Homo sapiens: one gene and its partners. The protein of the gene in region 2 interacts with the protein of the main gene of each other region in a pairwise test. Each region holds a gene or a part of one and is shown on either strand. Other genes may lie near its edges. The genes, in order: TCEA2, KRTAP10-7, NPBWR2 and ING5.

Region 1 (7,944 bases), on a different chromosome or scaffold from region 2:
CCACACCTGTCCGACCAGGCTCCCCACGTGCCCTAATGCAGCCCCGTAGGCTGGGCCCACGGCTGACACCCCTTCCTGAGGGATCCCCGACCTGCCAGCCGTTGTCCTTAAGACGCCACAGCATCTTGACCTCCCCGTCTGCAGCCTCTGTGGGCCTCCACTGGGACCCACTGAGACATGTCAGGCTCCTCACGAGCTCTGTCTTGTGTGGCCATGCCCAGGGCCCCAGGACGTAGAAGACCACCTGGCATCTCATGGAGGAGGAAACAGGGCCCAGAGTGGGACCTCCACTCAGGCTCAGCAAGGGCCGAGTCCCAGTTCCTGGAGTCCTAGTTGAGGCCCCTCCTACACAGAGCACAAGGTGGAATTCACGGGGTCATAAAGGCAGCCAGTTCTACCAACACACAGTTATGCAAATATTTTCTTAAAGTGTGATATCAAAACCCAAGTGCTTCTTTACCAATCTGCTGAACAAGATGTGACTCACTGAACAGCCTCTGCAGTCCCAGCAGCAGCGAGTGTGGGGGTGCGAGGCAGTTCCCATCTGTGCCGGGTCAGCCACGGGCCCAGCTGACCAGATTTGGTTCATGGCCTCGTTCATAACTGAACGAACGACACCTTTCTGCTAGAGGTCGGTATAAAGGAGATGATGGGCCGGGCACGGTGGCTCACACCTGTAATCCCAGCACTTTGGGAGGCCGAGGCGGGTGGATCACCTGAGGTCAGGAGTTTGAGACTAGCCTCACCAATATGATGTAACCTCGTCTCTACTAAAAATACAAACATATTAGCCGGGTGTGGTGGCGCATGCCTGTAATCCCAGCTACTTGGGAGGCTGAGACAAGAGAATTGCTTGAACCTGGGATGCGGAGGTTGCAGTGAGCCAAGATCGTGCCACTGCACTCCAGCCTGGGCAACAAGAGTGAAACTCTGTCTCAAAAAAAAAAAAAAAAAAAAAAGGAGATGATGGTTTCTTCCCACCAGTTTATTTTCTGTCAGGGGTTTGGTCTCTGGGTCTCTGACCCCCTGGATTGTTGAGACGCCTCGCACTGTTCCCTCCCATCTTGCCCGACCGCCCCCCACCAGCTCCCAGGCCCAGTATGTCTCTGTCCCACCCCATCGTCTCTATAGGCCCTGTCCTGCAGTGGGTTCTGTCCCTCCCTGCAGCTTGGTAAGGTTGTTGAGGCTTCAATACACACTCCAGACCACATCCCTCTCCCTCCCAACTCTGGGACACTCTCTGCACCTCTGAAAAGAAACTCCCAGCCCTTCTTGTGCCTCTCCCTTCCTCTGGGCACCCCTTGTTCCTTATCCATCCTGGCTGGCCTGTGGCCTGTACTTCTGATCTGCACACAGGTATCACAGAGGACAGAGACCCCAGGGCCCCAGCCCCTGGTGGGGGCGGGGAGTGCAAGGGGGCAGTCGTCTTTGTTCTCGACCAGCTCCCAGCTCCCTAGGTAATGCTTTAAGAGTTACCGTGCTAGGGGATCTTTGTGGCTGAAAACATTCAGATGAACCAGATATTTAAAAGCATCCCTCATGCAAAGTCCCTCCACTGGTTGGGCCGGCCTGGGGAGGGTCAAGGCTGGGTCTCTAGTCTGGTTTTCCGGGGGCGTCTGTGTGCACTCCTTCCCCAGAACCTTGCGCTTGTCCATCCCAGGGAGAAATCAGGTGGGGAGCGGCCTCACTGCTGGCTCCTTGATAGTGACTTGCTCCAGAGGTCCGTGCTGATACCCCAGACCCCGCCCCACCAACACTTCAACTGGGACTGCGGCGTATGCACAACTGCACAGCCTCCTCTGGCAGCTCCTTGATGCTTCTGGGACGTTGACCCTCTCTCCTTTGCACCTCCACTCTTAGGAACTTGCAGCTCTCTGGGGTTAGTTCTCCTCTGTGCTGTCTGGGCTGCACCTCCTGCCCAGGAGGGGCCTCTCTGTGCTGCAGCCCTTACCAGCATCTCAGGATCTGCAGTCCTGATACTTGGAGGTCTCCCCCCCACCCCCAGCTTGAGGGCTGGCTTCCTTTCGGTGGTCTTCAAATCAACTCACACTCGGCCGTTGGAGAAGCCTATGTGTCTGGCCAGGCAGGCTCCATGGATGTGGCCAGTGTCTTTGTGGACGGTGGGAACCAGCTTTGAAACCCTGGCCGCCCGGACCTCCGAAGCCAAACTTTCTGGGGTTCCTGCACAAGGGCAGTTCCAGTGTGGCTTCTACAGGACCCTGACCAGCTCCTTGGTCTGGCTGTCAGCCATTGAGACAGTGGTTGAAGGCTGGGTGGCTCTAGCCTCCCCTCGTGCCTCTGATGAGGCTGGACCCTTCAAGTCTTCATATATGCCCAAACCATGGGATTCTGACCACGAGGACTTGCTTGGATGGTCTAGGCTGGAAGCTATGTCCCCAGCTCACTGTGAGGGGCAGAATCAGTCAGTATGGAAACCGTGTTCATCTATTAATAATAATAATAATATAATATCGCGGGGCCTCTGTCTTAGAAAGGCTTTGCTCCTCACAAGGAATTCTATGCTTTTTCCCTATGATTGAGCTTTTTTTTTTTGCGACGAGTCTCACTCTGTTGCCAGGCTGGAGTGCAGTGGCATGATCTCGGCTCACTGCCAGCTCCGCCTCCCGGATTCAAGCGATTCTCCTGCCTCAGCCTCCTGAGTAGTTGGGACTACAGGCGCATGCCGCCATGCCCGGCTAATTTTTTTTTGTTTTTTTGTATTTTAGTAGAGACGGGGTTTCACCCTGTTGCCCAGGCTGGTCTCAAACTCCTGAGCTCAGGCAGTCCACCTCCCAAAGTGCTAGGATTACAAGCATGAGCCACCGCGCCCAGCCTGAGTCTTTTTTTTTTTTTTTTTTTTTTTGGAGACAGTCTCACTCTGTCACCCAGGCTGGAGTGCAGTGGCACAATCTGGGCTCACTGCAACCTCCGCCTCCTGGGTTCAAGTGATTCTCCTGCCTCAGCCTCACAAGTAGCTGGGATTACAGGCATGTGCCACCACGCCCGGCTAATTTTTTTTTTGTTGTTGTTTGTTTTTGAGATGGAGTCTTGCTCTGTTGCCCAGGCTGGAGTGCAGTGGCATGATCGCCGCTCACTGCAAGCTCCGCCTCCTGGGTTCATGCCATTCTTCTGCCTCAGCCTGCGGAGTAGCTGGGACTACAGGCGTCCGCCACCACGCCCGGCTAATTTTTTGTATTTTTAGTAGAGATGGGGTTTCACCGTGTTAGCCAGTATGGTCTCGATCTCCTGACCTCGTGATCCGTCTGCCTTGGCCTCCCAAAGTGCTGGGATTACAGGCATGAGCCACCATGCCCGGTCTAATTTTTGTATTTCTAGCAGAGACAGGGTTTCACCATGTTGGCCAGGCTGGTCTGGAACTCCTGACCTCAGATAATCCGCCCACCTCAGCCTCCCAAAGTGGTGGGATTACAGGGGTGAGCTACTGTGCCCAACCAAGATGAGTCTCTCTCTCTCTTTTTTTTTCTTTTGAGACGGAGTCTCGCTGTTGTTGGCCAGGGCTGGAGTGCAATGGTGCTATCTTGGCTCACTGCAACCTCCGCCTTCCGGGTTCCAGCAATTCTCCTGCCTTAGCCTCCCAAGTAGCTGAGATTACAGGTGCCCGGCACCACACCTGGCTAGTTTTTGTATTCTTTGTAGAGACGGGGTTTCACCATATTGGCCAGGCTGGTCTCGAACTCCTGACCTCAGGTGATCCACCCGCCTGGGCCTCCCAAAGCGCTGGGATTACAGGCATGAGCCACTATTGCCCGGCTAAGATGAGTCTCTTAACTGACCATATTTTCCTTTTCATTTTGGCTGCGGGGAAGCTCAGTTATATGTGATTAGTGCCACAGACAGCCCAAGAAATGCTCAGCCCATTCCACCTGCCACCTGGCCTCATAGTTCGTTGGCCTGAACTTGAATGACTACAGGCTCCTTGATCCACACCCTCCCCCAGGATTGTGCCCTCTCCAGGAAACCACCCAGCATCTGCATTACTGGGGAGCTGCCAGGCAGTGGTGGGGATGCTGGCCCTGCACCTGTCCCCGTCCTCAACCCTCCCTAGGCCTGGGCCATCTCTCTGGCTGCCTGCAGTCTGGCCCTACCTAGGGACCTCCAACAACAATGTCAATGAACACTAATTGTCATGCTCCATCCCCTCTCTGTTCTCAGGCATGTGATGTGAATCAGCTGACATCATCTTGACGGGAGCCCTGTGAGGCGGACACTTAACTCCAGTTTCACAGGTGGGGAGACTGAGACACAGTGGTCAACGTGCAGAGCCCAGAATCTGCTCCCTGGTAGCTGACTTTGCAGGCAGGGGCCTTGCCCACGCAGCCTCGGCAGAGGCCCCCGCACTTCGCGAACCCCAGCAATGGCCCCTTCCAGACGCCACGTCCAGCTACCGCGCGCTCACACCTGCAGGGCCCCACAAGAGGCCTCCCAGTGTGCGCGGGCCTCTTGAAGAAGTAACTCTACTCAGAAGCCCGAATGACCCAAACTGGGCTCTGGGAGGCTGGGGACGGCCTTCTAGGCCAAGTGGGGCGCGCGCAGGGCTCAGCGGGGCCCAAGAGAAGGGCTGAGGGCACTGGGTCCTGAGCCACCCACCGAAGGACGCCGCGGGACAGCAAGGCCCGAAGCAGGAGGAGAGAAGGGAGCAGATTCCTGGGCCTCCTGGGGCCCGGTCGCTCCGGGATGTCTGAGCTCTGGGAGGGGCGTGCCCGGGGCGCCTCCCTCGCGGGGTATTGTGGGATCACGAGTCACTGGCGACGGTGGGTCAGGACTACACTTCCCAGGAGGCTGTGCGCGCCGCGTGGCGCCTGGGAGTTGTGGTCCAGAGCGCGGGCGCGGCGGGCGCGGCAGGCGGGCGCGTGGACTACGCATCCTAGGATGCCGCGCGCGGCCGCGGGGCCGAGGGTTTGAACCGGGGGTCTGTCGTCCGCGGCGGGGCTGCGTCGGCTGCGGCGGGTGTGGGAGGTGGCGACGGCCGGGGCCGGGGTCCTGCCCGGCTGCGGAGGCGGGCGCGACGGGCGCGGGGGTCGCTGCTCCTGAGGCGATGATGGGCAAGGAAGAGGAGATTGCGCGGATCGCCCGGAGGCTGGACAAGATGGTGACCAAGAAGAGCGCGGTGAGGGGCGCGGGCCGCCAGGACCCCGGGAACCCCGCCCCGCCGAGACCCCGTCGAGCCCGCCGACCCCCGTTAGGGCCGGAAGACGACCTGAGGGGCAGGACGAGACCCCTCCCCGGCAGAGACTAACCGGGACGCAGGGGAGACCCCCACCCGTGGCCGAGACCCCTGCCCCGGGCCAGCCCTGCCGTTCACTCCCGCAACCCCGGCAGAGGCCGCGATCAGGCCTGGACCTTGTCCCGGGAGAGCCACCCGCTCTGGACTCAGACCCCTCCCTCGCCCGCAGTCACAGGCTCCGCACCCTTCCCTGTCCCTTAACTCCAGACCCCCAGCCTGGCCCGTCGACTCCTTCCTTGGCCCTGTCCCGCCTCTCGGAGCCCCCGGGGTGTTCGGGCCTCCTCTGCGGGCCGCGCCAGCCCCTTGCCTTCCTCCATCCCGGCCTGGGCATCCTCACAGGCCGAGCCCCGCCCCCCAACTCAGCCCTCTCCCACGCTCCGTCTCTTACAGCGTTTGTCACCCTCCGTCTCCCATAGCATTTGTCGCCGGCAACAGTTTGGAGTCTGAGGTTGGATCCCCTTTTCTTCTGGAGCTTCCGTGCCTCCCCTGCCTCTTCCCAGCCCTTGTCATCCTCCTTCACAGGCCAGCCAGATACCTGTCTTGCCTGTGGGCCCATTTTCTTCCCTGTCTGTCCCCACCCCACAAGAACCAGGTTTCTCTAATAAATTCTCTCCCTTCTTTAGCCAGGACTTAGCCCGCAGCAACTTGGGTTGTGGGTAGTTATGTGGACACCCTCCGAAAAGAGCCGGTGTGCTTATATAAGAGCCAGGAGGTCGGGCAAGCCTCCTCTGGGAGTGTCTGGGCGCTGGAGCCTCTGGCCGGCTCTGTTCACTGCGGCCTGGGCCTCTGTTGTCTTGCGGCCACAGCGAGACTTTGGAGGAGGCTGTGTGTGAGGACTTTGAAGGGGCCAGGTCAGTGGGGGTCCAGTTCCAGCGTCATGACCTTGGCAACCTCTGCACCCTCCCACAGAAGCATCTTTAGAGGATGCTGCCTGCCTCCTGGGGGGTGGGGAGGGGTCTGGCCGCAGGTCATTTGGAGCTCCTGGCTGGCTCAATAAACGTGACCTGTGCTTTCCCACCCAGACTGTGAACTCCTGGGGCAGGGCCAGCTGTGTGTCTGCCAGGCCAGCCCAGGGCGGTGAAGGTGGCTGAGTCATGGGCTTTGGGTGATTTGTGCAGCCACCCCAGGGCTGTGTGACTGCAGTGGGGGTTTGGGGGAAGCTTTTTGGGCTGAGCAGGGTTGAGTCTGGGTTCCTGTGACCAGCGTTCTGGACTGGGGTCTGCCCTGGGAAGGGGTGGGCTCCCACTCATTCCTGCTGGGTGCAGCACCCCCATCATTGCGTTCACACACACCCCGGAAAACTGGTCAGCACAAAGTAGGGGTCTGCGAACCATTCATAGCTGTTTCCAGAGATGACCCGAGAATGGAGTTGTTCCCCTTCTTAAAGGAGACAAAACACAAACGATAAAAGCTGTAGGTGGGAGAAGCAAAGATGGGTCATGGAGCCAGGGGAGGGCTGGGTGGGGCTGGGCAGAACTGATGGGGGGTTTCTGGTGGAAGAACAGCTTGAGTAGAAGCCCCAGGGGAGAATGAGGAGGGGAGGCGGGCGCTGTGCAGTGGGGAGTGGGAGCCAGCAGAGCCTCCTGGGGGTCCCAGTGCCTGAGGTCCCCTCGGGGACCTGGGGGCCAGGTGTGGGGGTTTTTTTGCCTCTGGACCTGAGCCCACTGAGAGCCACGTAAGCAGGTGCAGGGCTTTCAGGGGACAGTGGCCTTGGCTCTGGCTATCACCTCAAGGCTGGACTCTGTACAGCCCAAGAGGCAGGGCCTGCCTGGGAGGGCTCAGGAGGGGCTGCAGCGTGAGCAGACTATGCCACCCGGATTGCTGGGGTTGTGCGGGCGGTAGGTGGGACAAGCCCCTCCCATGGCCTGTGGGTCGTGGGACTCTGATCAGGTCACCTTAGGGCAGAGGGAATGATACACACGTGGAAACACATGCACGTGTTACAGAGGAGATGGGGTGTTGCAGGGCACAGTTGCAGTTTTAAACAGGAGAGGCCTTGCTGAGAAGGTGTTGTTGAAATAAAGCCCGGGAGGGAGGGAGGGAGGGAGGGAGACGTTGTGGGAGGCCGCCCCAGGCGGTGGAGCTGCAGGTGCAGAGGGCCTCGGTGGCGGCTCAGCGCCCTTGGGGAGCACTGAGTTGCCGGGCCTGGTGTGGAAATGTGACCGGTTTGTGCCTGGCCTCGTCAGTGTTGAGGACCTGGAGGAAACGCAGATCTTGGGTGGGGAGACAAGGCGGAGAGAACGAGGTGCATTGGAACAGTCCAGGCGAGGGGTGCTGGCCTGCTTGGGGGCAACTCAGAGGCCTGGAGGATAGATGAGGAGGGGGGCTGTGGGCCTTGTAGGTGTTGGCTGTGGCCGTGCCTGGAGTGGAGGGACCCTTGAAAGTTTGGCCTCAGCTCGGGACACTGATGTTCCCGGGTTGGCCCTTCATGAGAGTTTGGCCTCAGCTCGGGACACTGATGTTCCTGGGTTGGCCCTTCACAGCTGGTGGGCGGGGGGTGCTTTGGGGAGAGGCTGCCCTGCGCATCAGGGCATCAAGACACAGGGGAGTGAATGAACCTGGGGCTGCAGTTTCACCTGGGTGTGGCCCTGGCTGCTGGGGAGGGGCCGTGGCTCTGAAGCCTCATGATTGGCCAGGGGAGCTGGCATTTCTGTTCTGGTTTGGGTCAGTGACCTGAGGTGGTTACAACGAAGTCAGTG
Region 2 (6,747 bases):
AGCTTCTGCCTGGGCTACGCCAGAATTCCAGACTCCCAGCAGGGATGTGGGTGTTCGGCCTAAACCACATGGTACAAACAGCTCAGGCCCAGTGAGGCGGGGCCGGGGGGAGCCCCTCGGAAATCCCAGTTCCCAGACGCCAGCCAAGGGCCAGCCCGGCCAGCGGGCCTCAGGATGGCCGTCCCCGCCCACCGTGTGGACCCATTCTGCACACGGCCATGGGGTTTCCTTTCTGGAGCCAGGGGCTGGACACAACCCAGTTTCTGGGGAGGCCCCAAAGCAGCCCCACCCAGGGCAGGCGCTGCTGTTGGATCCCTCACCTCTCCCATCCCTCAGTCCTGCCTACCCCTCGGACATCCGTGTGGTGAGGCTGGTGCAGGGCTGCCAGGACGCCTGGGAAGGACAGGGACCTCGTGGCGTGGGAGCAGCCCAGGACCACCCGCGGGTGGGGGGCATCAGGCAGGGGTCTTTGGTTGTGAACAACAAGAATGAATTCCAGTTGTACTTTTTAGGAAAGGAGTTTATTAGAAGGGTCTGACCTGCTCCCGTGGTCAGGGAAGACAGAGAAAGAGGCCCAGGCCCACAGCAGGGGAGGAGCAGGGCTCGCCACTGAGCTGGGACAGTGACGAGAAACCCAGTTGGTACCTGTCTACCCTCATTTCTCCCCACACCGGGCTATGGCCTGGGAGCACCCGCTGGCCTTGCTGGGGTCACTGCCCACCTGTTGCTGGGGAAGCAGGGCTGGGTAATTGGGGGAAAGTCAAGACTTGGAGAAACAGCTGAGCTGCTTCTAGGAGGAGAAGCGCACACTGGATGGCCAGCTGACCACTGACGTCCACTGCAGGGCTTAGGAGCGGGATGTGGAGAGCCGTCAAGGGTAAAGAATCCAGGGGTGCAGGTGGCAGTGAGCACTCAGGCTTTGGATGATCTTAAGGAGATCACTCAGCAGCTGGACTTCTGGGTTGAGGTGGGGCCACAGCAGGCCGGGCGGGAGCATGCGGGGCGGCAAAGGAGAGACACACAGGAGGCTGGGCGGCAGCAGCTGGCCTGGCAGGAGGAGGTGGGGGCGCAGCAGGAGGGGACGGGCACGCAGCAGGCGGGCCTGCACACGGGGCGGCAGAGGAGGGACACGGAGGAGGAGGGTCTGCAGCAGGAGGTGGTGCAGCAAGCCGGCTGGCAGCTAGACTGCTGGCAGCATGAAGTGGAAGCCCCAGAGCAGACGGGCACACAGCACACAGGCTTACAGCAGACGGGCACGCAGCAGCCCTGCTGGCTTTGGGAGGAGGTGCAGCAAGCTGGCTGGCAGCATGAACCGGAATCATCAGAGCAGGTGGGCACACAGCAGACGGGCTTGCAGCAGACAGGCACACAGCAGGCCTGCTGGCAAGGGGAGGAGGTGCAGCAAGCCGGCTTGCAGCTAGACTGCTGGCAGCACGAGGGCGTGCAGGAGCTGATGCAGCCTGATTGGCAGGGGCTGGGCTCACAGACCGCCTGGCAGCAGGGACTGGACACACAGCTCACACAGCTAGACTGCTGGCAGCACGAAGAGGAAATCCCAGAGCAGACAGGCTTGCAGCAGATGGGCACACAGCAGGCCTGCTGGCAGGGGGAGGAGGTGCAGCAAGCTGACTGGCAGCTAGACTGCTGGCAGCATGAAGAATCCCCACTGCAGACAGGCACACAGTACACAGGCTTGCAGCAGACAGTCTTGCAGCAGACGGGCACGCAGCAGGCCTGCTGGCAGGGGGAGGAGGCACAGCAAGCCAGCTGGCAGCTAGACTGCTGGCAGCACGAGGGCGTGCAGGAGCTGGTGCAGCCTGATTGGCAGGGGCTGGGCTCACAGGTCACTCGGCAGCAGGGGCTGGACACATAGCTCACTGGGGTGCAGACCAGGCTCAGGCAGGGGGCCGGGGCGCAGCAGGGGGGCTCGCAGCAGCTCTCTGGGCAGTCGTCCACCTGCCAGGAGTCGGAGCAAGAGTCACAGGAACCAGGAAGGCAGACGCGGCTGCCGTAGCTCAGGTCGCTGGAGCAGACAGACATAGTGGACGCAGCCATGCTGGGGATTGAACTGGAGGAGATGGGAGTGAGTGGGTGAGTGAGTGAATGAGTGAGTGAGTCCGTGTGTTAGGTGCTCAGGGATGTTGGCTTTTATATGTCTCCCTGGTCTGTTGTCCCAGCTGGAGTGTCAACAACTCCTGCCCCTTCCTTGTTTGTGTTTAAAACCTAGAGAACGCTTATTAGTGCGAGTTTCATGTTTAGTCCTATGAGATGCCGTTCAGTTTGTAAAGTCCTGAGTCTATATTTGGTTCCGTTGACGCACCCTCACCTACCTTTGGCTCCAGAGCATAATATTGAAGTAGACAGGGTGTAATGTCTGCAAATAGAGTGTCCCAGGGGCCTGTGCTGGCTGCAGGAGAGATCCATCCATCCTAATCCCAGCGCCTGTGGGCCATCGCCAGGGGACTCTGCTTGTCTGGGTGGCTGTGGCTTCTGGAATGCCAGGCTAGAGAAGCCCCTGTCAATGATGGCATGAGGGTGGAACATTCCTAGAAGTGACTCCCCACACTCTCTCTGGTGCATAAAGTCCCCCCAAGGGCTTTAGAGCAAGTGGCAAACGGGAAAGGGTGGACAGTGGTGTGAGCCATTTCCCGTCAGGTTCACAGTAGTTCCTGGGGGGCCGTGCACCCCCTCTTCCATCTGGGCACTTAGGGAGGCCCCAGATCCCTGTTTGGGGCCCCCATTTCCATTTGGTTTTATCCCAAGCACTGCAAACCTGTAAGTCTAACCCAGAACACCTCCTCCGCAAAAAGCACAGCCACTCTCAACAGCACTGCCGTGTGAAAAGCAGCAAGCACTGCTTTCGCTTGCAGTGTGTTTTCTTGATTGCCAGCTAAGTCCTTGGTCACCCCAGCTAGACATCTGATCTAAGTCTCCATTTCTTCTGCAAATAATATCCAATTGGCCACCACATCTTTTTGGTTGTTTCTGCTAAATGTTTCCAATTGTATCCGATACTTTTACTTCTCAAGCATTCATTTATTCATGATGCAGTGAGTCCTCCCACATGCTGGAAATTGCACCAGGTGCTGAGAATGTGAAAGTGAAGGGGTAGTAACCCTGACTGTGGACCCCACCAGGGAGGGAGGTGGGCTGCTTGGTGCCTGGTGATGTCAGTGATGACCAGCCATAGCCCAGCATGCATGCGGCCCTGAGAAGTGGCCCCTACCCAGGGGAGAGGGCTCCAGGGGCCCTTCTGGTGGGGTTTGATGCCCAGGCAAGTCTCAGAGGCTCAGGGTGTCCTGTGTCTCTATCTGTGTTTCCCAGTCCAGGCCTCTTAACTCCTAGGGGATTTAGGAAAAGTACAAAAGGCCTCAGAGGGCTAGAAATTCAGTTACACGGTGGGATGAATTGTCTTTCTGTATATTTTGAACTATAAAAATAATATAAATTTGAGCATGGCCTGGTCCCTCCAGAGGTACAGGATCTGGTCCTATGGGATGGAAGGAGAGAGAGAGAGAGAGAGAGAGAGAGAGAGAGAGAGAAAATGGGGGCCTCTGCTTCCATATGGGACAAAGTAGCTATGTCAGACATATACTCCTGCTGAGAACAACTTGAAAAGCTGAACAAAATGTTTTAAAAATGATTCCTTTAAAGCTCTCCTAAAAGAGCTGTTGAAGAAACTAAAGGTAATAGAATGACATCTTTAAAGAGCTGAAAGAAAATCACTGCAAACCTAGAATTCTAGACCAGGAAGAACATTGTTCAAAGGTGAAATATGAAACAAAACAATTCTGGATAACAACTGAGCAAACTGAACACGAGCAGACCTACTCTACAGTAACTATGAAAGGGGATTTTTTTAGGCAGGATGACGGAAGGATAAAAATGCAGGAAGGAACCAGGAGGATCTGAAAGGGTAATATTATTATATTTATAATCTCTTGTGGGGTCTAAACTAGAAGTAGAAAAGTAATGCATGATGACATTAACAATAAAAGGTGAGAAGGATAAATGGAGTGAAAGTTTTCTAAGGTTTCAGCATTGTTTTGGAAGCGGCGGAAGTGCTGACATATGTTACACTTGAATAATCTAAGAATGTGTGCTATAATCTCTAAAGTGACCACGGAAGAGATAGTAAAAACTATGTATAATCAATGTATAATCAATAATGTTAGAAATAAGGCTCAGAGTCGTAAGGAAAAACGAGCACTGAGACAAAGGATTTCTCAGCAAAGCAAATGTATGTCTGTGCAGGAGGGTGTCTCCCATATGGCTGGTTGCCACGAGAGCACACAGAACAAAGGAGAGTAGAAGTTTTTATTCCTAACGTGATCCTGCCCCTGTGTCCTTTCCCCATTGGCTGGGATTGCGCCGCACAATTTAAACTAGACCCGATTGGCTAAACATTTAAACTTTCTTAGATAAAATGGATGCATAATGGGAGAGACGGGAGAGGAGGAAGGGGTCATCTACGGGAAACTAGAGAGCCAGTCTTTTCCTAAATACAGAACGGAATGCGAGCTGGTGCTGATAATGCTAGTGATGTTGCGGCATGCCTGGGCATGTAGTAAAGTCAGAAAGAAGAAAAGGAGAAGAAAGAGAGGGGGCGGGGGTACTAGGAATTAAAGAACAAAAGGTTGAGCAGCCTGTTTGAAGAGAAGCCTTGCCTTATCTCACGAATAATGAATAGAACAGAAGAGGGAAAATAAATAATAAAAAATACTTGATTAATCCAAAATAGACAGGAAGTGATTTTTAAAAGAAACGTTAAAAAATTGGGACAAATAGAAATTGTACAGTCAGATGGCAGATAGATATAAACTAAATCATCAGTCAATAAAGTATCAGATATTCCAATTAAAATATATTGTTGGTCTGAATAAAAAGTAGAAAACCTAACTACATGCTGCTTACAAGATACAGAGCCTGAATACAAGAGCATAGAGGCCATGTGCTGTGGCTCGCACCTGTAATCCCAGCACTGTGGGAGGCTGGGGCAGGCAGATCACCTGAGGTCAGGAGTTTGAGACCAGCCTGGCCAACGTGGTAAAGCCCTGTCTCTACTAAAAATACAAAATTAGCCGGGCATGGTGGTGGGCACCTGTAATCTCAGCTACTTGGGAGGCTGAGGCAGGAGAATCGCTTGAACCCAGGAGGTGGAAGTTGCAGTGAGCCGAGATCGCACCACTGCCCTCCAGCCTGGGCGACAAGAGTGAGACTCCATCAAAAAAAAAAAAAAGAAAAGAAAGAAAGAAAAAGAAAAAGAGCACAGAAAGCTTGAAAGTAACAAGATGGAAGAAAATACACCACACAAACACTAACTAAAATGCTAGTGTGACTTATGAATATCAGAAAAAGTAGATTTTAGAGCAATAGAGATGAAGAAAGAAATGTATAAAGCTAAAAGAGTCAACCTACCAGGAAGATGTAACAATTCTAAATCTGCATGTATCTAATTACATAGCTTAAAATATAAAATTAAAAAATTAAAATAAAAAACTGTTTTTTAATTTTTTTAACTGGCAGAGCTAAAAGTAGAAATAGAGAAAAGGGAAAATCATAGTGGGGGATGTTAATACACCTGTCAATAATGATAGGAAGGGAAAGAAAAATCATCTCAGAGTGGAAAGGGCTATTCTAAGTTTTGAGTAAAACACCGAAGCCATTTAAAAAACCGATAAAACTAATTATGTAAAAATTTTTAAATTGCAGGAGAGAAAACATTATAAACCAAGTCAAAAGACAACAATATGGGAAACACATTTCCTATCTGTATATCAGAGAAAGGGCTAATTTGCTTAATATCCAAAGAGCTCCCACGAGTTATTAAGATCAATAACAGAAACATAACAGAAAGTGAGCAAAGGATACAGAGACAATTGAAAGAAATATACATGGTTCTTAAATGAGAAAACGTGCTCAGCCCCATTTAAAATGAGATAAAACAAATTTAATGGCCATATGATATCATTTTTTATATTGGAAAAAATGAAAACCATTGATGTTCCCAACATGGGTTGGCGAGGGTGTGGGCAGACTACCCAGATGACTTGCTGCTGGGCTGAGGTTGCTCCACGGCTTTGGCAGGCAGTTTGCTGCTACACATCACAATTCAAAACCTCATGCCTTTAAGCCTGAATCACTAAGCAAGCATCCTGTAGATACTCCTGGGTGGATACAAGGTATGTGCAAAGGTATCACAGCCATGACATTGTCCAGACAGCGGGAGACAGACTCTAGGGTGGCCCCATGTCCCTCACCTCCTAGTGGTCACTGGCTGTGTGCCCCACACTCCTTGAGTGTGGTTGGGACTGTGACACGTGTATAGACACAAGGAGCCACAGAGAGGGTGATGGGATGTGCATGATCCCATTACATAAGGTCATAATGCTCGTCTCGGGAGGACTCTGTCTCCCTGGCTAGCTGTGAAAAAGCCAGCACATTGCGAGCTGCCCGTTGAGGCCGCATGGAAAGAGATGATGGCAGCCTCCAGTTGACAGCTGGTGACAAACTGAGGCACTTAGTCCAAGAAGCTACAAGGAACTGAGTTCTGCCAACAATCACATGAGCTTGGAAGTGGATCCTTCTCCAATTGAACCTTCCCATGAGACACTCCAATACAGCCCTACAGAGACCCCAATTTAACTGTGCCTGGACTCCTGACCCACAGAAACCGAGATGATAAATGTGTGTTATTTGAAGCCACTAAGCTTGTGGTACTTTGTTCCACAGCAATAGAAAATGAAC
Region 3 (7,136 bases), on a different chromosome or scaffold from region 2:
AATTCACCTCCCACTCTGAGGGAAACTGGCCCTGAATTACTTATCTCTTTCGAGAGAGCTAAGCTGCCCAATTACCTGCTTAGAGAACACCAGGCCTGGAACTCTCGCTGGTCTTTTTTTTTTCCTTGTGACAGGGCCCCACTCCGTCACCCAGGCTGGAGTGCAGTGGCACGATCTCGGCTCACTGCAGTCTTGACCTCCTGGGCTCAAGCGATTCTCCCACCTCAGCCTTTCAAGCAGCTGGGACTATAGGCATGCACCACCATACCCAGCTAATGTTTGTTTTTCTGTTTTTTTTGAGACAGAGTCTCGCTCTGTCCCCCAGGCTGCAGTGCAGTGGCATGATCTCGGCTCAATGCAACCTCCGCCTCCCAGGTCCAAGAAATTTTCCTGCCTCAGCCTCCCGAGTAGCTGGGATTACAGGCACCCACCATGACGCCCGGCTAATTTTTGTATTTTTAGTACAGACGGGGTTTCGCCATGTTGGCCAGGCTGGTCTTGAACTCCTGACCTCAGGTGATCTGCCCACGTCGGCCTCCCAAAGTCCTGGGATTACAGGCGTGAGCCACCGCACCCGGCCTTTTGTATTTTTTTTGTAGAGATGAGGTTTCACCATGTTGCCTTGACTGGTCTCGAACTCCTGGGCTCAAGCAATCTGCCCACCTTGGTCTCCCAAAGTGCTGGGACTACAGGTATGAGCCACCGCCCCCGGCCCTCTCACTGGTCTTAATGGCCTAGGCCTCTTGGGAGGACTTAACCTGCAGGGCCACAGCTACAGTTGAGGCTCATCTTGGAGAGCTGATGGAGGAGAGAGAGCAGGGCAGACAGGCCTGGACTCTGGCCACAGGGCAGAATCCACCCCTCCTACCAGGGCCTGCCTGGCTGGAGATGAGATGGTCAACAAGCACACTGGAGTCTGTATGAATCTCTGGGTCTGTATGCCTGCTACACATATGCATGCCCGTGTGAAGATCCAAGTCGCAGCACGGACTGAGGGACAGGTGTCCCTGCACACAGGGGGACAGGTGGAGGGCAGCTGCCACACCTATGTGAAGCGGCAACAAGCGTGAAGCCAGCACAGCTATGTTGTGTGTTGCTCAGGCTGTCCCAGGGTCCTGGCGCTTCTCCCTGGCCCCTGCCCTAGGGGTCTCCTTCAGGTCCCTGCAAGACCCCCACACGCAGCCCCACAAAATGCTCAGATGCACACTGACTGGCACCCATCACTCCCTCACCCCACACCCCAGACAGAGGATGTGCCATGTCAGTGGCCTTGCTGTCAGGCCCCCACCACCGTTCTGCCCAACAGAGCTGACCACGGCTCCCTCCCTCCCTGGCCTCTCCTCTCTTCACCCAAAGGGCCTCACAGGTTCATTTGAAAAGGCCAATTTATTTCTGAAAATGGAAACCATTTCCACAGAACGATGCTCTCACAAGCTCACAGCTGGCTGGAACAATGCCCAGCCCACGAACAGAGCAAAGGGCCTTTCTGAGCCCTGAGTGCTGGGGGTACAGACGGGGGAGCACCCCCGGCTCAGGCCCTGGTGTTGCAGCGGGCATCGGTGAGGTGCTTCTGGGAGGAGGAAAAGGCCCCTGGGGCTGCTGCTTTTGTGGCCAGGAGGACCTGACACCTCCAGCCGGCCTCCCCGGGGTCCTGAGCTCAGCACCTGGCAGTCTCCCCCATCCCCACTGCCCTCAGGGTCCCCATCCCTTCCATCATGCGCACCCCACCTCCAATGTGACCGGCGGGCGGTGGTGCCAGACCAGCCTTCAGGACAGGCTCAGGAGAGCAGAGCTAGAGTCTGGGAGGGGCTCCGATTCCCAGACTCACCAGATACCGGTGGAGGGAAGAGGACCCAGACTCGTGGTTGGCTTCAGAGGAAGCCAGACACACAGTGGGATCTTTGCATGGGAAGATTCTGTGCTCTGAGGGATGCCTCTGACACTGGGCTCCCCACTACTGAGGCTTAAGGGAAGACCCTCCTGGAACACCCTGCTCTGAAGAAGGTGTGGGTGGCAGTCGGTATCCTGCAGGGCAAAGACCAGCAGGGGTGCCCAGAGCTCAGGCCACACGGGGGTCACTGGGCAGGCTGCCAGCCAGCCCTGGGGGGCAGAGGAAGGCACCGGCACTAGCCTGGGCCCCTCCCAAAATGCATGGAAGGGAGAGGCCCCCAGCAATGCCCCCAGGGAGGCCCAGAGTCAGGCAGTGTGGCCAGCCCCACCCCAGGACAGCAGCTCGGTGACAGCAGGCCCCCAGGGAGGCCCAGAATCAGGCCAGCGTGGCCAGCCCCACCCCAGGACAGCAGCTCGGTGACAGCAGGCCTGGGACATTCTCCCAGTGCCCGGTGCTGAGGCCATGGTCGGCCGCTCCCCAGCCAAGACCAGTGACCGCCTGGCCCAGCCCACACCCTGGTCAATGCCTGGGCCACCACATGCCAGGCCTGGCCTCTCTGTGTCACGCCTCTGGTTTCCAGGAGCTGTGAACTGACCCCTCCCGACCCCACGAACACCCCAAATCACAAAATTCAGCCCCAATGCACCCTCTCCTCACGGCTGCTAATCACCATCCCCTGACCTTGTGGGCGTCAAGCTCCACTTATGTGACAAACTGTGGCTACAAGCCCCACGCTCCCTCGAGACACACCCACAGATCCCCCCCACCGCCATCCCCAAACTGGCTGAAGAGGAGTGTGAGATATCTCAGCAGGGTTCCCTGACCCCGGACTCAACATCCACATGGCACAGCCCATAGAAGGGTAGCTCGGGGCCCACCCACAGTGTACCCTCAGGCTGGCGACATCAGGGTACTCAGGGCGACTGCCCAGGCTCCTGTCCTAACCAATAGACTTGACAGAGCAACTCTCAGGAAAGAAGGCCGACCATGAGTGTGCGGTGACATCCTTGCAACCCCACAGGCAGCGGGCACAGTCTCGATGGGCAGACACATCTCCCCAGACTGAAAACACACAGTGACCAGGCACGGTGGGTCATGGCTATAACCTGAGCACTTTGGGAGGCTGAGGTAGAGGCTGAAGCTCAGGAGATCGAGACCAGCCTGGGCAACATGGTGAAACCCCGTCTCTACAAAAAAAAACACAAAAATTAGCCAGGCATGGTGGCACATGCCTGTAGTCCCAGCTACTTGAGAGGCTGAGGTGGGAGGATCACCTGAGCCCAGGGAGGTCAGGGCTGCAGTGAGCCATGATAGTGCCACTGCACCCCAGCCTGGGTGACAGGGCAAGACCCTGTCTCAAAAAAGAAGAAAGGAAAGAAAACACAGACCCTCTGACCCAACACGTCTCCGCTGAGGAGCGGCTCTGAGACTGGCGACTGCTCGTGTCAGCTGTGGCGTTGCCTGCAAAGCAGGTCCAGATGCGGCCGAGCTGCACACACACGGGTTGGATAAGCCAGGGTGCGTCCAGCAAGGAAGAAAAGCAGGGAGAAGGGAAGGACTTAAAGACCAACCCAGAGCAGAGTGTGATGCTCACCACCTCTGCAGGACGGCGGGAGAGTTACGTGTCAGCGTGAGAACGTCTTCTCTGCAGCCTTTCACAGCTTGCCTAGGCTGAGTTCCTCTTTTAGCAAAAGACAAAAAAAGAAGGTGGGTTGCCTATGGCCAACAAGTTCTGCTTCCACATGAGGGCATACAGACCCCCCAGATGCCCACACTCAGCCAAGGACATGTAGACCCACTCAGATACAACGCAGAGCTCACCCACAGAGACCCCCATACAGGCAGACACAGGCCCACACACGTACATGTCCTAACTGGCACACACACACAGGAACACACCATGTACACACACAGGGTGGGGCAGGAGACCCACCAAGACACCCATGTTCACAGATAAGGGTGCCCAGGCCCACAGTGACTCCCGGACAGAGGCACAGATGCCTTCAGTGCCCTCTGCCCGAAGACCTGGGCACACCCAGAGGCCCCTGCATGGAGTCCCTTCCTGACACACAGGCGCACACGTGCCTCAGCCGCCCACTGAGGAGTCTGCCTGGGTAAGTGAATGCTGAGGAGACCCTGGGACAGCCGACTGCAGGCGCTACTGCAGCTCAGGGGAAGGTGGGGCCTGCCTTCCGGGCTCCACGTCAGCAAGGGGGATCCGCCTCCCTCCCTCACCAGCATCAGCACTGACACCAGGCTGGGAACCTCGCAGCCGGGGCTGAGGCAGCCAGCAGGGCAGGTCTTGAAACTCCTGAAACCTCAGCTGGAGGTCTGTCAGTGAGGACCACACCTCGCCCTCCATCCCTGCGACTGCCTGTACTGGCCAAAACCAGGAACACACCAAGGCTACCAACTTCTGGACTCGAAGCACTGGACAGGTCAGTGGAGAGAAGAGTAGCTGGACCAGCAGGGTCTGCAGCATCTCTCGGGAGGGTGTGAGGGAGGGTGCAGACTCCAAGACCCCTGAGGGAAGGACCTTCAGATTCAAGGGAGCCAGAGATGAGCTTGGGAGGTGTGTTTCCAAAGGGACCGCTTGATTCTACGCAGCCCGTGCATCTGCGGGTTGCTGGGGCAGGGACGGATCCACATCTCTTCCCAGGAGGGTGGCCAGCAGCTGCTCTCTGCGGGAGGAGGGAACTGATCTGCTGAAGTCTCACCAGGAAGAGGCGGGAGGAGGCCCCCACACACCCCACCAGGCTCCCTCTGGCCCCATGTCCTTGACCTGGCAAAGTGGCCGCAGTCTCTGCCAGAGAACCTGGAGTGGCTGTGCCCTAACAGACGGCCGGATCTCAAAGTCTCTGGTTGTTTTTCTTTCCTAGAATCCAGCCCAAGGAGGCCCCCAACCAGATACCCAACTCCAAGGCACCTCCCACCTGCCCAGGGCGCAAATCGTCAACGGTCCCAGCTACAATGCAGGCCGCTGGGCACCCAGAGCCCCTTGACAGCAGGGGCTCCTTCTCCCTCCCCACGATGGGTGCCAACGTCTCTCAGGACAATGGCACTGGCCACAATGCCACCTTCTCCGAGCCACTGCCGTTCCTCTATGTGCTCCTGCCCGCCGTGTACTCCGGGATCTGTGCTGTGGGGCTGACTGGCAACACGGCCGTCATCCTTGTAATCCTAAGGGCGCCCAAGATGAAGACGGTGACCAACGTGTTCATCCTGAACCTGGCCGTCGCCGACGGGCTCTTCACGCTGGTACTGCCCGTCAACATCGCGGAGCACCTGCTGCAGTACTGGCCCTTCGGGGAGCTGCTCTGCAAGCTGGTGCTGGCCGTCGACCACTACAACATCTTCTCCAGCATCTACTTCCTAGCCGTGATGAGCGTGGACCGATACCTGGTGGTGCTGGCCACCGTGAGGTCCCGCCACATGCCCTGGCGCACCTACCGGGGGGCGAAGGTCGCCAGCCTGTGTGTCTGGCTGGGCGTCACGGTCCTGGTTCTGCCCTTCTTCTCTTTCGCTGGCGTCTACAGCAACGAGCTGCAGGTCCCAAGCTGTGGGCTGAGCTTCCCGTGGCCCGAGCAGGTCTGGTTCAAGGCCAGCCGTGTCTACACGTTGGTCCTGGGCTTCGTGCTGCCCGTGTGCACCATCTGTGTGCTCTACACAGACCTCCTGCGCAGGCTGCGGGCCGTGCGGCTCCGCTCTGGAGCCAAGGCTCTAGGCAAGGCCAGGCGGAAGGTGACCGTCCTGGTCCTCGTCGTGCTGGCCGTGTGCCTCCTCTGCTGGACGCCCTTCCACCTGGCCTCTGTCGTGGCCCTGACCACGGACCTGCCCCAGACCCCACTGGTCATCAGTATGTCCTACGTCATCACCAGCCTCAGCTACGCCAACTCGTGCCTGAACCCCTTCCTCTACGCCTTTCTAGATGACAACTTCCGGAAGAACTTCCGCAGCATATTGCGGTGCTGAAGGGCCTGGGCACCATCACCCCCATCATCATGCCCATCATCACCCCCCATCATCATCACGCCCATCATCATCATGCCCACACCCCCATCAGGCCCACCCCCCCCCACCCCCACCACCACCCCCACCATCACCCCCACCACCACCCCCATCATCACGCCCATCATCATGCCCACCCCCATCACATCCACCATCACGCCCACCCCCATCACCCCCACCCCCACCATCACGCCCACCATCACCCCCACCCCCACCCCCACCCCCATCATCACGCCCACCCCCCCCACCACCCCCACCATCACCCCCATCATCACGCCCACCCCCACCCAGTTCCGGCTGTCTCTTTCAGGGGACGCCCGGCCTGTTCACATCCCAGTGCTGTCCTCTCCACGCAAGGAGACACAGACCCTCACACGCTGGCCACCAGACCTACAGACAGCCGTGGGCATATACCTCCCATGTCTCTGCTTCCTGGACAGCCCCTGGGTGGACAGCAGCAGGGATCCAGGTCCTGGCAGAGGCCCCCACACAGCAAGCATCCCGGGCCCACTTACCCACGAGAGACAGACAGATGGACAAGCCCCTTGGAAGGCTCTGGGACTCAGGATCCCTAATGACAGTGGTCGGGAGGGGAGGGAACCTGAACTGTGATCTTGACCTGGGCCACGTTACATAGTCTCTCCCCAAGATGGGGCCGGGGGGTGGTAAGTGCGGGCACCTCAGGCAGCAGCGATGCTGTGTTGCTGCAAAGGCGGACACCTGCACCGCATGAGACCCAGAAATCCACTCTCGTGGCCTGAAGCCCAAGTGGAGTTCCAGCAGGAGGCCCAGCCCCGCCGTGCCCATGTGCCATGGCCTGTGCTGCTGTGTTCCCCCTGCTGTGGCCGACGGTCCTTGCCATGGCCTGTACCCGCCCTGCTGTGTCCGACAGTCCTCTCCATGGCCTGTGCTCCCCTGTGCCCCCCTGCTGTGTCCGACGGTCCTCTCCATGGCCTGTGCTCCCCTGTACCCCCCTGCTGTGGCCGACAGTCCTCACCATGGCCTGTGCTCCCCTGTGCCCCCCTGCTGTGGCCGACAGTCCTCACCATGGCCTGTGCTCCCCTATACTCCCCTGCTGTGGCCGACGGTCCTCTCCATGGCCTGTGCTCCCCTGTACCCCCCTGCTGTGTCTGACGGTCCTCTCCATGGCCTGTGCTCCCCTATACTCCCCTGCTGTGGCCGACGGTCCTCTCCATGGCCTGTGCTCCCCTGCTGTGGCCGACAGTCCTCACCATGG
Region 4 (7,020 bases), on a different chromosome or scaffold from region 2:
GCTCAGCTTGGTGAACGCTCATTAAACAAAAAGCACACTCGAGTTTCCTAGCTTCATTCCAGAACTGCTATTGTGGCACAACAAATTCACAACAAATTCACATCGGAGTCCCCTCGACCGGGAGCTGCGGGCCTGGGAATGCACAGCACAGGCAGAAGCATTCGTGGTTCGTCAGCTCCTGGCAGACGGGACTCACTTCACGGACACACAGACCCACGATCTTCATGCTATTAGGGTAATTTCATCTTCACAGTAAAAAATCACCAATTCCCAGAGAAACGGAGCATCAGCCCAGCTGTCGCACAGGGTCTCGCGGGTGCTGGTCACGGGACCTGCGGCCACTCCAAGCTAATGAAGAGCCGTTTACTCCGGAGGTGAGTCCCCGAGGGAGGACTGAAGTCCAAGCTAAAAAGGCGGCGCCAGCGAAGCGGAGGCCGCTTCCTCCAGGGAAGAGCCCCCAGCCCTCCCGGGCCCATCCGAGGCGCCCCACGCGGGAGCGCACGGTGGCCGGAGGCGGCGCGGAGCCGAGTGTGAGGAGGGCAGCCGCCGCCACGGCAGTGGCCCCACGCGCGCCTCGGTGGCAGGTGCTCCAGCGGGCGGGGCACGCGGAGCCCGGGCTGTACCGGACAGTCCTGGAAAACCACAGGAAAGCTACGCGAGGGTGGCGGCCGCCCTCCGTGGACCAGGTTACCATGTCCCCGCCCGCACGCCCGGCCGGGCAGCCCGAGCTCACGCGCGCCCGCCCACGTCCGCCGGGGTCCCTGCTGATGCTCGGGGGGAGTCCTGTAAAAGCCACACTGAGGTCGCGGCGGCGAGTCCCTGCAAGGTCGCCCTTCTGTGCGAACAGGCTTTGGTGGTTCTTGTTCTAGGAAACATCCAGCGCTTCAACTGGCCACGGAGTTACTAAGTATCAACCGAACAAGGTAGTTTTAAAAGGAAGGGAAATATTGCGACACGAATGAAGGGACAGATTAACTTGCTCCTCGGATCCGGGCACACAGCTCCTCCTACTTCTTCTTCCTCTTTTCCTGGACACACCGTGGACAGAACCTGTGACAAGAAAGGCGCAGTGAGGCCCTGGGCGCCATTTCCGCCAGCGCGCAGGGTGCCCAGGGCCCGCCTCCCCATGTCTCCCAGGGCTGCTGGACGCCGGCAGGAGGGCACCAGGAGAGGCACACGCAGTGGGGCCGCGGCCCTCCCGCAGGGAAAATGCGCCGATGCACGTGCGGCTCTATGCAGGACGCCGGTTCTGAAGCTGACAGATACACCATCAATGAGCAAAACCGATTTGACACCCAGGCGTTCCTCCTTAACAGGTGGGTCCTTCTTCCCCGGCCGATGGCAGGGTCGCTGGTGCCCTCTGTCTGCAGTCTGTGGGGGCTGCAGGTACCAAGCACGCGTTGAGAGCATGGCAGCCCCTCAGGCCCACGGAAACCCAGCCAGGCACCCTGCACTGGCCCTGGAAGCTGCCGTCTCACAAGTGCTCCCTGGTGACTCTGAGCAAGTTCTGGAGCTGCACGCACAAGGGGCTCCTGAACAGAGGCAGCTGCTGACCACAGAGGACATTCCATAGGTTCCCCACGCAGGAGGCAGCCGACTCGCATGACGGCAACCGTCAACCACCGCCTGGCCCAGGCCCAAGCCTGCCCAGGGCCCTCCGCCCTAACAGCCTCCGTACCCCTTCTCAAAACCCTCGGTGCACCATCCCCCAGCCGCACGGCGTGGGGCACCACAGTGCCATGTGTCCCTGTGACAGGACAGCCTGTGTTGACGCCACATGACACCGTGAGCTCGGCCAGCCTCCGAGACACGGCATCCTTTCCCTGTGTCCTCACACCGAACACCAAGGATAACTGGCTCTTACCAACTCGGGCGAGTCTGCCGGAGTTTCAAACACGCTGCCACGATGACCTCTGAGTGCCACACAGAAGAGCACATTCCGATTTCATTTTCAGAACATAGATATCCATTTTTAGATTTTCAGCACAGGCAAACAAAGCCAGGTTTTTATCTTTTTATTTATTTATTTGAGACAGGGTCTTGCTCTCTCGCCCAGGCTGGAGTGCAGTGGCGCGATCTCAGCTCACTGAAGCCTCGGACTTCCAGGCTCAAGCCATCCTCCCGCCTCCGCCTCCCAGGTAGTTGGGACCACAGGCACGCACCACCACGCCCAGCTAATTTTTGTATTTTTTGTAGAGTTGGGGTCTCCCGATGTTGCCCAGACTACAGGTTTTTATTTAAATGAAATCTGAGGAACAACAATGCAGAAAGTTGCCATTGCCAAGGGGATGCAAGGGTCAGGTAGAGAAAACACACCCTTCTCCACTAGACAGAGCCAGGGGCAGAGCCCCAGATCCATGCCCCGGCTTCAGGGCTCACATCTCATGCTATATTTCCCAAATTTCCCTAGGGGACAAGAACCTCTCATTTCTGATTTAAGACGATCCCTACCTCCCAGAGTCCGGAAGGTTGTCCTTCAGGAGGGGCCATTAACGTGAATATCACGTAACCTGGTAACCACCATTCCTGGGTGACGGCATCCCTCTGCCAGCTCGGACAGGCACAGCAGCAAAGGGGGGATAAAGCCACACCCAGAGCAGCCACCAGCCAGCCACACTCCTTGAGGCCACAGTGGGGCATGCCTACGTGGCTACCGTGTCCCGCTAAGCCCGGCAAGATTCTGCCATGGAGCACCTTCTCCTGGGGAGGCCAGCAGCGCAACACCCAGCAGACTGGGAGAAAACAGAGCGAGCGTCCCCACACTCACCATTTTCCTTTGGGTTTCGTGGTAAGGTCCACGCAGGCAAAGTGAAACCACTCAATTGGACACTGCAAAGTAAAGGGAGAAACCGCAGTCAACACGCCTCATGTTCTGTATGCAAAACACAAGAAATGCCAACATCCGCCAGCCCTGCCCCACACAAGACCCCGCCCCATGGCGCGAATCCTGCAGGCGACACTCACGTCTGGATTGTCACAGCCAATCATCTCCCCATAGGAGACCTGGTGGCACAGGCAGTACGTGGGTTCGTTTGGGTCCACGGGCATGTCCAGCACATCAGAGGGGTGCACGGACAGGATGGTGTCAGTGAACTCAGACCTGCAGGGGACAGGGCACAGGCACCACTGAAGGCCATGGTGGGAAGTGAGGCGGCACGGACACCACGGGCCCTTCTGTCTCTGACTTAAGGCCCCCTCACCCCAAAACTGTGAAGACAATCATTCCAAGGGGGAAATTGGTACCGTGCTCTGAGCGACACATAATGAATAAGCTTGCTTCCATTTTTCCCATTGTCCTTTAGAAATGAATGCGACTCCAGGGCCAGCCACTGCAGTCATGCACTAACTGAATACACACCTTGTGGACGTTTTCTTCCTGGAGCACACATTTTCAAAACCTCAATAACCCCTCTGAACACGCAATGTTCTAAGAAGGCGCAGCAAGAAAATCATTAAGTATACGAACAGATTGTCAGCTGATGCTAGAAAGAACAGTTACCCACAAAAATCCAGGAACAGCAGCAGCTGGCAGCAGAGGGGTGGAGACCTCGCGCCCACCTTCGGGCCCAGGCAGGGGCATGGGGGCACAGAGGGCCCCCAGGAGGCCGTGAAGCGCAGCACTCACCCACAGCACCGGGGTTCTGGTCCCACTCTGGGGACGAGTCCACTCTCATCTCGGTCCCTCCTCCCAGACAGGACTCCCCCGGGGACCTCTGGACTCAACCCACTTCTGGGCCATCCCTCCAAAGACCCCGGCCCCTTTGGAAACAAGCACACGTCACCTCTGCCAGCAGACGGCTGACACCTGAGAGAAGCCTGCCAGCCTCCCACTCCAGACTGACAGGTGTCAGAGCAGCCCGCACAGTCAACAGCTCTCCCGTAACTGTGACCTCCTCCCAAGAGAACAGCCATGCGTCCTGCGCCCGGGCCCTCCACGCACCTACTCAGGCACCTCTGCCCCAATACTGACTCAACCAGCAGCTCCCCACACACTCCCTGGACCGCCCACCACCCACCCAGCTGTCCACCTGGCACAGGGCCCCTTCCGACCACACACCATCCTTGTCACTCCTTCATCCCCATCAGCTCCCACGTGGGTTTCTACACAGCAGCCTGGCAGGTGTTCCACCCCGTCTATGCCTCCCTCCAAGCCTGCCACCTGTAGCACCATGGCCGTCCCACCAGGACCACAGACCTCAGGTGGAGACTTTCCTGTTTGAAAGGGATGCACTTAGGGGGAAATTTACGCTTTTATATTTCAGTATTTTTCAAATAAACTTACAAGCTGCAGGTACTATAGACAGTGTATTCCCATTAGTACAGAAAGAAAAAGTATCTTCCCTATCCCACCCTCCAACCCACGAATATCTAGTTGGTATGTAAACACAGCAGGTTAGCAGGAGGAACGTGGCCGTGAGAAAAACAGTCACGATCAGGGAAAGCCAAGGAGCAGAAGTCTGGGTCCCAGAGGGAATCAACACTCAGCTTTTCCTTGGATACCTGTCTAAAGCTTTTCTACGCCTTTGCAATTGCCTGTACACATACACACACACTCGGGCTCAGCATGCACCCGGCCTCCCCGCTGCCCTCTGGCACAGGGGCGCCCACCTAAGTCTGTCCTTTGCAGGTAATCTGCTCTTCTGCTCTTTCTCTCTGTCTGGGAATAGACAGGGGTTTCTCTTTAGAGCTGAAATCCATCAGCGTCACAAGTCCAGGTCCAGGTGCTGCCGACACTGCTTTCAAGCAACAGTCTCAAGTAGTCTTCGGGTCTCTCCTCTGACAGCAGCACGCAAGGGTCTACGTCTCAGCCTCCTGCCGATTCCGGGATGCCACCTGTGGCTTCACCTCCAAGGGGCTCCTGCGGTCTCCTCGAGTCACCTCTCACCCGCGGAGAGCAGGGCAGCACCCTCTGCTGCCAACCGTCCCCGAAACGCTGACGCCCTCCTCTTCTGCGCCGAGTCCAATTCTGTCCACAAAGCCCGACCTGACATCTTGAGCTGCCACTTGACCTGTGTCTCAGCATCACCAGGTTCGAGGGCGCTGGCCAGATTTGATGGCTGTGGGAGAGGGCCGGGGGCCTGAGGGGACCGCCCAGCAAGGGCACCCCAGAAGCTGAGGCCACCGTGCAGGCCTCACTGGCCTCTCAGTCTCGCCTGAGGGAGCGCCATGGCGTGTGGCCAGGGAGTGCTGCTATCAGCCCTGAGGGAGGCAACCAGGAGGCCATGGGGAGCCCTGTCCCTTGCACAGGCCAGGGTGACCCCAACTGTCAGCGGCTGCTGACTCCCTTCAGCACCACTGCCACAAGAGGCACCCTCTGTGCTAACTCCCCAGGGTGTGGCAGGCACCCCTCGCCAGACGGTGCCAGCGAGCCCTTCCGCGCCCGGCCCCGATGGCTTCCCAGCACTCCACGTGGCTCCTAGCAGGGGGCTGGCTGCCTGTCCAAGCCCCGGGATTCCAGGTGCTACAGGTGACACTGCCCTTCATCCACACACACAGGTTCTGCCTCGCCAGAGCAAGGCCACAGGGCAGCAACAGTGCAGGGGGCAGCCTCAGGTCACGGGATCTCAGACGAGACACGGAGCATCTGTGCAGTCTAGGAACACTGCATTCCAGGAAGAGCCCCGGGCACGTGGGGAACAGGCCTGAAGAGGGCAGTCCACAGGGACAGGATGGTGCGTGCGCCTGGGTCCCCAGCAGGGAACAGGACCTGCCTTGAGGCAGAGCGGCCTGGCACCACAGCGTGACCACGAGGGGCGTGAATACCCACTGTGCTGATGGGTCAGGGACGCGCACCACAGAACTCCAGAGCCCAGGGGCAGGCGGGCTCCTGCACACACCCAGGATGATGCCCTTGGAGGCACCCGAGTGCACACTCCCGCCCCGGCAGGCCAGGCTTTGGGTCCAACCGACTGGTCCTCAGGATGACCCGTCTGCCCACCTGCACCATCCTCCTGTCCCTCTGGAAGGGGCCTCCTTGGCGCCTTGGACGTCAGAGCCCAGCTTCAGAGCTGGCCTTACCAGCCTGTCTCGACGTCTTGCAATGGGACAGGAGCAGCACTGCCACTTGGGGGCACAGAGAAGAAAGAGATTCACACACAAGCTAGATCCAGAGCCGCAGGGCCCCGCAACTGTCGCCATCGGTGATCACCCTTCTCATCTGTCACTACTGGGACCTGCACGGCAGGCAGCGCTGAGCTCCCAGGCTCCGCATTGCTACTAAACAGTGCTGGTCAGCGCACTGTCAGGACAGGAAAAGCCATGAGGCCACAGTGGATCTTCCTGTGTTTGCAGAGGTGCTGGCTGTTCCTGAGGTCTCTGAAGCTGGGCAGAGCCCTCAGGGAGGAAGCCCCGACCCCAACAGGGAGCTGGAGTCTCCTTCACCCCCACGAGGACCCCCAGTGCCTGCATTCCTTATGCCTAGCATACCCTTGAGAAACAGCACTGGGTGAGGAAGAGACCAGGAGGAGTCCCACTTTCACGCAGAAAAGGCACGGTCGGGACAGGGCCTTCAGGTTCCGAGCAGGAAGGAGCAGGAAGACTCAGAACGCTGTTGCCACTGAGTTAGAAAACACAAAACCCAGCAAGTCACAAAAACCACATTCTCAAAGATGTCGGGGAGCTGTGGAGCAACAAGAGCTAGATGACCTGCAGCCAGAGTGGGGGGTGTTGGGGGGTTGGGGGCGGCGTCCGCCTGCCTCATGCACTGAGTGAGGGCTGGGCTGGCCACTGGGCCACGCTGAGCCCACACAGCCACACATGGCGGCCGCGTCCCCACCGACATTTATAGTCCAGAGGCTGCACAGAGCAACTAAAAGCAGAGGGAAAATCCCTGCAACCTCGGAGTTCTCGAGCAAGGGGTCTGCTCGGGCACCGCTGGTCTCCTCCCCCGCACTTCTACCAACTGTGGAAGCCGCTGGGGCAGGAGGCGAGAGAGGAAACCTCAAGGTCCTCAAGGGGCCTCGGTGGAGCTGAAGCTGAGACCCTGCCCCGCCCCAGGCCCCCAGCCCTATTGGCCTGGAC

What was found.
Region 1: the proteins of KRTAP10-7 (region 2) and TCEA2 interact in binary tests that used the Homo sapiens proteins (3 or more experiments, as listed by UniProt).
Region 3: the proteins of KRTAP10-7 (region 2) and NPBWR2 interact in binary tests that used the Homo sapiens proteins (3 or more experiments, as listed by UniProt).
Region 4: the proteins of KRTAP10-7 (region 2) and ING5 interact in binary tests that used the Homo sapiens proteins (3 or more experiments, as listed by UniProt).

The regions. Positions count from the first base shown.
Region 1 is NC_000020.11:64,058,257-64,066,200, forward strand, and holds the start of TCEA2 (transcription elongation factor A protein 2), read left to right. Parts: upstream 1-4,941; 5' UTR 4,942-5,056; coding exon 5,057-5,128; exon of another isoform or gene 5,129-6,096; intron 6,097-7,944. UniProt on the Homo sapiens protein: Necessary for efficient RNA polymerase II transcription elongation past template-encoded arresting sites.
Region 2 is NC_000021.9:44,595,930-44,602,676, reverse strand, and holds KRTAP10-7 (keratin-associated protein 10-7), read right to left. Parts: upstream 2,081-6,747; 5' UTR 2,056-2,080; coding exon 943-2,055; 3' UTR 503-942; downstream 1-502. UniProt on the Homo sapiens protein: In the hair cortex, hair keratin intermediate filaments are embedded in an interfilamentous matrix, consisting of hair keratin-associated proteins (KRTAP), which are essential for the formation of a rigid and resistant hair shaft through their extensive disulfide bond cross-linking with abundant cysteine residues of hair keratins.
Region 3 is NC_000020.11:64,104,557-64,111,692, reverse strand, and holds the start of NPBWR2 (neuropeptides B/W receptor type 2), read left to right. Parts: upstream 1-4,127; 5' UTR 4,128-4,329; intron 4,330-4,770; 5' UTR 4,771-4,861; coding exon 4,862-5,863; 3' UTR 5,864-7,136. UniProt on the Homo sapiens protein: Interacts specifically with a number of opioid ligands. Receptor for neuropeptides B and W, which may be involved in neuroendocrine system regulation, food intake and the organization of other signals.
Region 4 is NC_000002.12:241,719,019-241,726,038, reverse strand, and holds part of ING5 (inhibitor of growth protein 5), read right to left. Parts: intron 6,557-7,020; coding exon of another isoform or gene 6,418-6,556; exon of another isoform or gene 6,064-6,417; coding exon of another isoform or gene 5,917-6,063; exon of another isoform or gene 4,232-5,916; intron 3,101-4,231; coding exon 2,965-3,100; intron 2,830-2,964; coding exon 2,768-2,829; exon of another isoform or gene 2,249-2,767; coding exon of another isoform or gene 2,248-2,248; exon of another isoform or gene 1,914-2,247; coding exon of another isoform or gene 1,913-1,913; exon of another isoform or gene 1,865-1,912; intron 1,381-1,864; exon of another isoform or gene 1,051-1,380; coding exon 1,008-1,050; 3' UTR 1-1,007. UniProt on the Homo sapiens protein: Component of the HBO1 complex, which specifically mediates acetylation of histone H3 at 'Lys-14' (H3K14ac) and, to a lower extent, acetylation of histone H4. Component of the MOZ/MORF complex which has a histone H3 acetyltransferase activity.